Linked DNA regions of Homo sapiens: region 1 is linked to region 2. The links come from fine-mapping of genetic effects on gene expression. A gene starts in region 2. The other region holds a variant in brackets. All regions are shown on one strand. Distances are between the middles of the regions.

Region 1 (4,380 bases), 30 kb before region 2:
GCTGACCTGGGTGGGCTATTATCCTATTATCTGAAGGCACAAATACACAGACACCCATCATGCCGTGTGCACTGTAGACACTCGGCTGTTTGTATCAGGAGGCTATTTGCATGTGTGGTGAATTAAGAGGATGGCGCTCTGGGAAGCGTGCCTCCTGCCCAAACCCTCCCGGCCGCCAGGCGCACCGTGGGCAGGCTGTACTACCTTCTTAGGTTCCTTCGTTTCTTTCTTGGCTGCCTGTCCGGGTCTCTTTGTTTCGGGAGCGGGTGAGAGAGACAGAGGTGGCTGCGTGGGACCCGAGTCGGCACGATCCCACCCTGGGGGGGCCTCCGAGTCTGGCACCGTCCTCGAGGGGGTCTGTCGCAAGGAAATGCAGAACAGGCTCTCCTGGGGCTCCTCACAGGAACCGAAAGAGAGAGGGGGATGCAATTCCCCAGGCGTGTTTCCTAAATACATCACTGAGAGGCCGGATGACTCTGGTGACCAGAGGGAGGCAGGAAGGGGGCTGGGGAGAGCAGCCCCCTGACTGGGCCTCCCAGAGCCTCTACCTGGCCTGACTAGAGAAGAGCCAGCCGCACTTAATAAGCAGCTCCGTCTGGGAGCACTCAGCACTCAGAATGCAAATGAGGGCGTTCGATGGAGATTCCGGGCTGGAAGAAACGGAGTGTGAGCATGCACTGAGGGAAGACTGGCCAGAGGGGGGCGATGGGTGTTCTCAAAGATACAATGATTTTTAAAAATATTTATTCCTGGGTCAAGTCCCAATTTTTAATAGCTCAACCCTCATTTTTACTTTTCCAGGGACACAGTATTTTAAAGGGTAAAACACCTAATGCAAGTTCAAACTATAGCAATCGCCTACTGATGGGATGCCCGTGAAGGGCTGGGTATCTGTAAAGAAGGTTCCAGAATGCGGTCTGTATAAAAGCAACCATCCCTCCTGGTTAGGAGTAGAGCAAACAGAGGAGGTATTTATACCAAACATGTCTAATGAGATAAATCTCACTTTCAGGAAAACCAGTGACAATGTTAGAAATTCTACTGAATTCCAGGACATCCTCTTGTGAGATCAAAAAATTAGAAAAGAAATTCTACTGTAGAAAAAGAGACGGCCGGGCTGGGCGGGGTGGCTCATGCCTGTAATCCCAGCACTTTGGGAGGCTGAGGCAGGTGGATCATGAGGTCAGGAGTTCAAGATCAGCCTGGCCAAGATGGTGAAACCCCATCTCTACTAAAAATACAAAAAAAAATGAGCTGGGTGTGGTGGTGGGCGCCTGTAGTCCCAGCTACTCAGGAGGCTGAGGCAGAGAATTGCTTAAACCTGGGAGGCAGAGGATGCAGTGAGCCAAGATCGCACCACTGCACTCCAGGCTGGGCGACAGAGAGAAACTCCATCTCAAAAAAAAAAAAAAAAAAAAAAAAAAAAAGAGATGGCCAGGTGCAGTGGTTCACACCTTAATCCCAGCACTTTGGGAGGCTGAGGCAGGCAGATCACTTGAGGTCAGGAGTTCGAGACTAGCCTGGCCAACATGGCGAAACCCTGTCTCTACCAAAAAATACAAAAAATTAGCCAGGCATGGTGGCACATGCCTGTAGTCCCAGCTACTTGGGAGGCTGAGGCTGGAGAATCACTTGAACCTGGGAGGCGGAGGTTGCAGTGGCCAAGATGGCGCCACTGCATTCCAGCCTAGGCGACAGAGCGAAACTATGTCTTAGGGAAAAAAAAAAAAAAAAAAAAAGGCCAGGCTTGGTGGATCACACCTGTAATCCCAGCACTTTGGGAGGCTGAGGCGGGTAGATCATGAGGTCAGGAGTTTAAGACCAGCCTGGCCAACATGGTGAAACCCCATCTCTACTAAAAATACAAAAACTAGCCGGGCATGGTGGCACACACCTGTAGTCCCAGCTACTTGTGAGGCTGAGGCACAGAACTGCTTGAACCCAGGAGGTGGAGGTTGCAGTGAGCCGAGATCGCACCACTGCACTCAAGCCTGGGCGACAGAGCAAGAATCTGTCTCAAAAAAAAAAAAAAGAAAAAAAAAAGAAAAAGAGATGTAGAAATCAGAGAAGGTACCCATTTTGGAAGAATTAAAATTAATAAGGGGATTTCATGATATTTGGGTATTTCTTCTACTTAAAGTAACTGTTTTTACACTACTGAATTCTCTCTTCCCCATCTTTCCCTGCCAGTGTTTTCACCAACTCTTCATATTTTAAGGATGAAAGCTATTTAGAAGCACTTTCACTTTAAGAAACAATTTTAGAAACAATTTCATAGTCCTCACTACCATCATCTTACAACTCAACAAGGAGTCTGGGTGCCCACTCGATGAACTTTATGGAAAACAAACAGTTTAAGAAAATGTGACAAAGTACCAGATTAGCAAATTTTCCATCAAAATTTTCTTCGCTTAGCTCGGAAAGTGAGTTTCCAACAGGCGCCTCCTGCGGCACTATCCCTGTCAACGGGAAAGAGAGCAACTATGATCTCAGTCACGAGAAGGCGGGACGTGTGTGTGGCGCACAGATCAACAGGCACACCACCTTCCCACCCAGCTACCGCCACACCAGCATGATCTGCAGAAACCAAGGCTGAACATCTTCCCACATGTGTGCACA[C/G]TCTTTCATTTTTAAAACTAGGCCTATGTTTTGCTTTGTCCATATACACACATGTAGACATAGGCACAGACCAGGGACAAGATCCACCAAATCGAGTTCCAGACAGTTCATGACCTGCCCCTGTGCATCTCACCAGGCGTCCAGCAGGGCCGTCTAAAGACAGACCCCAGGAGACCCATGGCCACCATGCCCTGCCCCAAATGGCCATTTAAGCTTCACAACAAAAAGCCAAGTTACAAAAGGAACTGGCATTAACACTGCTGTTGTAGTGAGACTCTGAACCCATCCAGTCTGTAACTTCCAGAATTTCTGGTCTACGTTAAGACAAGTAATGTAAGTTGTTTCAAGCTCAAATAACTTCAATCTCTTCCACCAATCCCCACAAACACCACACCCCATGCTGCTTCTGCTCTCGAGACAGCATCTCTGCAGCCCCACCTGGGTCTGGGCTCCTGGCTTCCTGGAGCAAGTGTCTCCTTTCCTGCAGAGGTGGCACACCAGGTGGGAGGCCAGGCCCGGAGGGCTCCAGGAAGCCAAGTGCAGGCCCTGGGGTCACACAGCCAGGACCCGGCTCCAGGGGCCCCGGGGGCAGTGGCACTGGGAACATCGGCACTCTGGCAGGACTGGCCAATGGGCCGTCAGGGAGCGTCTGCGGAGCTGCATGGGAACGGTGGAGAAGAGGTCTGGGGTTACTGAGGGTAGCTTGAGTTACTGGAAGGAGCTGACACTCGACGTGTTTATGACAAGTTATTTTGTACAGCCCCATTTCTTTTATAAGGGAGGTCCAACAGAGCAGAAAGCCTGAAGCCACCACCCCACCGCACCATCCGTGGTTTGCAGAAAAGCAGAGTATCCGCTTCCTTTTCTAGGGGAGGGGCACTTGAGCAGTCACAGCGGCACGCGGGCTCCAGGGCCCGGCCCACACGCAAGCCCATGGCGGCCGCCTGGCACAGAGCTCTGCTAGGCCCGAGTCCCCTCCTCCACGGCCAGGGGTCACACAGGCCACTCGTTCATTCCTTCATTCTTCCGACTCAACATAAAACCTGAGAGGGCTGCTGCCTACCAGCACCATGCTGGGCCCTGGATGCTTCAACAACAAAAGAAATGCTGGGTCCTCATGGGGGTCGGGACAGATGAACTGAGTAAGAGAAAGCGCTAAGGACAGCAATCAACCAGGAAGTGGTAACGGTGTCTGAGGACGAAGCAGACTGGACATCAGGCAGGGAGGGTGGGCAGTGGGCCCAAATCAGGAGTGTGGCTGGTCCACAGCGTGGGAGTGGACATGGCACGAGGGCAGGAGGGCTCAGGGCCAAGCTTGGAGGGCCTGTGGCCACCGTGAGGACCCTGGCTTGTCCTCAGGTGAGATGGAGAGTCTGGAGGGTCTGGGGAAGAAGCAGGAGGCGAGCAGGAAGGAGCCCGTGCTCATCCAGGCATGCGGACCTGCGTGCAGGCCGCGCTGGTGAGGTTCACTGACGAAGGAAGCCGAGAAGCGCGAGAGAGGAGGGGGCATCTGGACTTGACTCCCTGGAGCTCTGGGCTGGCCCTTCCACCGACGGGGCCGACTGGGAGAAGCAGGTTACAGAGGGGCACAGCCGAGGGCGCCGCCCAGACACGGTGCGGCTGAGGCTCCCGGAGAAACAAGCAGGGAGGCTGAGCAGGCAGCGGGCGCTCAGGGCAGTGTCGCCAGCACATGGATATTTATGGACATGGAAAGCCATGAGCCTCCCCTCCATGGGCTCCTCAGGGGAGGAAGCATGAAGG
Region 2 (4,380 bases):
CCCAGCACTTTGGGAGGCCGAGGCGGGCAGATCAAGAGGTCAGAAGATCGAGACCATCCTGGCTAACACGGTGAAACCCCGTCTCTACTAAAATACAAAAAATTAGCCGGGCGTGGTGGCGGGCGCCTGTAATCCCAGCTACTCGGGAGGCTGAGGCAGGAGAATGGCGTAAACCTGGGAGGCGGAGCTTGCAGTGAGCTGAGATCGCGCCACTGCACTCCCGCCTGGGCAGAGCGAGACTCCGTCTCAAAAAAAAAAAAATTATTCCGCAGCTCTCCTAGACTAAGAGCTTTTTTATGGCAAACATTATCACTTACAAGGAGCATTCCAACCTTCATGCTCCCTAATTGAGAGCTTTTTAGCAACATGCCACTTTCATTTGGAACAATCTTGTGACTTGAACTGATTTTTTTGATCTTTTTCTCTACTCACCAGGAGAAAAACAATGCAACTGCCTATCACCTATGTCACCACTACAGGGAATTTTATTCTTTTTTTTTTTTTTTTTTTTTTTGAGACGGAGTCTTGCTCTTTCACCCAGGCTGGAGTGCAGTGGCGCGATCTCGGCTCACTGCAGGCTCCGCCCCCCGGGGTTCACGCCATTCTCCTGCCTCAGCCTCCAGCGTAGCTGGGACTACAGGCGCCCGCCACCTCGCCCGGCTAATTTTTTTTTGTATTTTCAGTAGAGACGGGGTTTCACCGTGTTAGCCAGGATGGTCTCGATCTCCTGACCTCGTGATCCGCCCGCCTCAGCCTCCCAGAGTGCTGGGATTACAGGCATGAGCCACCGCGCCCGGCCCAGGGAATTTTATTCTGTAACCTCAAGTCATCTAATTCTTTTATTGTTCCAAAGAGGCCAGCTGATCTTGAAAATGCAGTATTCATAAACCTAGCTAGTCAGTTAAACTGCCTTGTAACCATGTGGATACCTAAGCAAAACTCTTTTTAGTACAGTTCTGGCTACAGAACTGAGGCATTTAAAATGCATGCACACCCCTCTCCTCTTGCTGCCACTGGCTTCATATTTTAAGTGAGGAAAACAATAGTGTGCCAGGAAGCCCCTGAGTTTACCTACTGCCTACAGTCTCCCTCACGGTGGCTGCTAGTGACGCCCTGTCAGACTGTGGGATGCTTGACACAAAGACATGATCAACTCCAACTCTTCTAAGTTAGAATCGCAACCACATACAGTTAGATGTTGAAGAGGAAGCCAGCGACAGAGGAGGCCAGCAGCCTAACACTGATGAAAATGACGAAGACCCTGGTATTCATGAAAGATGCTTACAGAAGAAGAAATCACATTAACATTTACCCACTACCATGACCTCTTGCTGGATTTGGCAAAAAAAGACAAAGAAAAAGAAAAAAAAAGTGCCCACTGCCTCAAAGAAAACTTTAAGTACAATTTTGAGACTCACTGTAGTAACCACTATTAACAGTAAACGAGGAACAAGGAACAAGAAAGACACGCTATTTTGCCTCTTGTCTACAAGATACCAGCACCTGAAACTTAAGAAAGGGGATGAGGAAAAAACGCAGGGAGGCTGCATTGTGCTGAAACTTGCAAAAGTATCACTTCTAGGAAGAACCGTCTGCGGTTCCGTTTGCTTCGTATTGCCACATGGGGGATGGGAAATACCTCTTTGGTTAACATCGGCATCACACATGTAAAACAAAATCTTAATATACAATCCACACCCAACTTACAAGCCATTTAAAAGTGTTCTTAAGCGGCAAAAACTGACTTTAAATGGCTCTGATGTTTCTGAAGGCTCTACTGTAACACTTCCATCACAAAGGGGCGAGCCGGATCACACACACTCCTCTAACCCTCGGCCTCTGTTGCAACATCCTGATCGCCCAATCAAGAAATTACAAACAAACAACTCTGCTCTTTGGTTCAAATGTAAATGTGTCTCTTCACCAGCATCGCTAAGGAAGCCTTCTAGCCGGTGAGGACAAGACACGCTCATTTGAAAAGTTAAGAGTCTTACGAGGGGTGCCTGGGGGTCCAGCCTCCCGCCCCGGGAACCGGCGTCACCGCAGCCCAGCCGGGTCCACGTCAGTCCCTCGAGTCCCACGGCGGCCCGCGCCGCGTCCGGCCTTCCGCTCTGGCCCGGGGGCCCGGACGTCTGTCCCCTCGACCGGCCCCGGCGGGACCCGAGATGCACCGCCCGCTCGGGGCTGGGCCCAGCCGCCTCCTCTCCTCCGCGCCCCGACCTCCACGGCCTGGCTCCGCCGGCCGGCCTCCGCCTTCCTCCTCCCGCGCTCGCCCCCTCACCCGCGCTCGCCCCCTCACCCGCGCGGCTGAGACCGATCCCTCAGGAGCCGCGGGCGAAAGCCCACCCGACGCTGGCGACGAGCACAGACACCTCAGCCGCCGCAGCCATCTTGGCACATCCGGCTCGGGTCTCCGCGGCCGCCGCGCCGCCGACGTGTCCGGCTTACGACATCAGCGCGCGCCCCGCCCCTGGCCCCGCCCCTCGGCTCGTCGGCCCAGACGCGTTCTCTTTCAGCCCTTCACAGCCCATCCCTCGGCCCCGCCCCTCGCCGGCGTCCGTCCTCCCCGCCTCATCCCTCTGTCCCGCCCCCTCTGCCCCCGCCCCTCGCCGGCGTCCGTTCTTCCCCGCCTCATTCTTTCGTCCCGCCCCCCGCCCGTCTTCCACGCCTTATCCTGTAGTTCCCGCTCCCCTTGGCCCCGCCCCTCTTCCGTCGTTCCTCGCCTCATTCTTTCGTCCCGCCCCCTTAGCCCCGCCCGTCGTCCGTCTTTCTCCGCCTCATCCTGTCGTTCCCGCCCCTTTGGCCCCGCCCCTCGGCCGTCCTTCCCCGCCCGTGGCCCCGCCCCCCTCCGGCGTCCGTCTGCCGCCTCACCGCTTGGCCCCGCCCCTCGCCACCTGCCCGGCCAGGCGCGCCGGGGCCGTCCCAGTACGTCGCCCTGTTTACGCTGGCTCTTTCTCCCAGTCTTTTTTCGTTTTAAGATGTGAGAAGAGATGGGATTCTTCAATCAAGGCCACAAGCGGGAAATCAGTCTGCAGGACCGATGCCAGCAGGCTCACGCACCGAGAACGGCTACTCCGCCCAGCTGAGAAGCGCGGGGCCCTGACGCGGGCGCGCTCCTCGCATTCTTCCGTTGGGCTGGGAGGCTGGAGGGCAGGCGGCGGCGGCCGCGCATGCGCCGGGAGCGGCCGGAGCTGCGGGACGCGGAGGGCCGACTGCGCCTGCGCGCTGGTTGCCTGGTTACGGCGTGGCCGCGGGCACCGAGCGGCGCCGGAAGTTGGTCGATGGCTGCCGCCAGTCCCTGGCCAGCGTCCTGGGGTTTCCCCGACGCATCCTCTACTGTCCCTTCGCTCTGCACAGAGGCCCGGGCAGGGAGGGGCGGCCCGGCCACCGCGCGGAGCCGGGTGTCCGCCGACTCGCAAGGGGGACGCGCGGGCTCCTCGTCCCCAAGCTCCGCCCTGCGCCTTTGCTGCGCCGGGCCCTCCCAGGCCCACCCTGGCCCCAGCCCTGCTGTCCTCCCGGGGAGGTGCGGCCTACTCGGTTCGTTCCCCCGGCCGCCAGCCCCACAGGGGCGCTGGGGTCCCAGCCTTGGCTGAGTGCACGTCGGTGGCGAGTGGGCCCGGGCGCTCGGGCGGCCAGAGCGACCCAGCGGAGGGGTGAGGCGGGTAGGCGCTCCTGTGCCTGCCACGGCCAGGCCAGGCAGCATCCACGCCCTCCCGCGGAAGATCGCAGGGAACAGGTGGGCACTATCCTCTGTGCCCTCATTTTTCGGAGGAGCCGAGGGAGGCTGAGCGGTTGAGGAAGCGGCCAGCCATGCCGGGCCCACTCACCTGCACACCTGCCTGGCAAGGGCAGGGAAGAGCCGCGGCCTTCCTCTGCTGCTCCTTCCAGAGGGCAGGCGCCGTGGTGGGGGTGCCCGCCCGATGGCATCGCGGGAGGCTGAGCTCCCAGCAGCGGCTGAGGTCCTCCCTGGGTGGGAGCCACCCTTGTCCCCAGCTGGGCCGGCGGCTGGTGAGGGAGGGGGTGATATCCGTGCCACGCCAGCAGGGCCGCAGGCGGTGCAGGGAGAGCTTCAGTCCGGCTGACGTGGCACCAGGGCCAATCTGCTCAGCTAACATTTGCCTTTCAGGAGTCAGATTCCTGACCTGTTTGAACAGAGTTAGGGAGCACGTGGTAGGGCCCAGCCCCAGCCCCGCTGCCCCCATCTGCTTCTTCCCAGTGGTCGAGGCGCTCTGCACCCTCCGCGGAAGGAGGTGTCATTGTTTGCCCTTTCCAAAGAGGGGGATGCAGAGGTGGATGCTGCCTCTCAGGCGTGGGGCTCGCCTTTTGCCGCTCGCGAGTTCAAAGAACCCAAGAGCCAGGAGCCCAGGGCTCGACCCTCTA

What was found. PIP is the estimated chance that this variant, and not a neighbour inherited with it, causes the effect.
Region 1: its variant is the best candidate, but not a certain one, in a credible set for the expression of SEC16A in whole blood (INTERVAL, PIP 0.87).

Annotation. Positions count from the first base shown.
Region 1 is chr9:136,451,052-136,455,431 of GRCh38, forward strand. SEC16A (SEC16 homolog A, endoplasmic reticulum export factor) reads right to left here. Exons shown (of 32, transcript NM_014866.2): 21 at 3,058-3,276; 22 at 2,377-2,459; 23 at 205-357. Among named protein-coding and RNA genes, the nearest start is that of INPP5E, 13 kb to the left of the region's middle. The variant C/G (reference allele first, on the strand shown) is at 2,620.
Region 2 is chr9:136,480,639-136,485,018 of GRCh38, forward strand. It overlaps SEC16A (SEC16 homolog A, endoplasmic reticulum export factor), which reads right to left and starts at 2,402. Exons shown (of 32, transcript NM_014866.2): 1 at 2,300-2,402. C9orf163 (chromosome 9 putative open reading frame 163) reads left to right here and starts at 2,857. Exons shown (of 1, transcript NR_172629.1): 1 at 2,857-4,380. RefSeq lists enhancers at 1,550-2,295, 3,041-3,785 and silencers at 2,025-2,344, 2,575-2,684, 2,755-2,934, 3,085-3,514.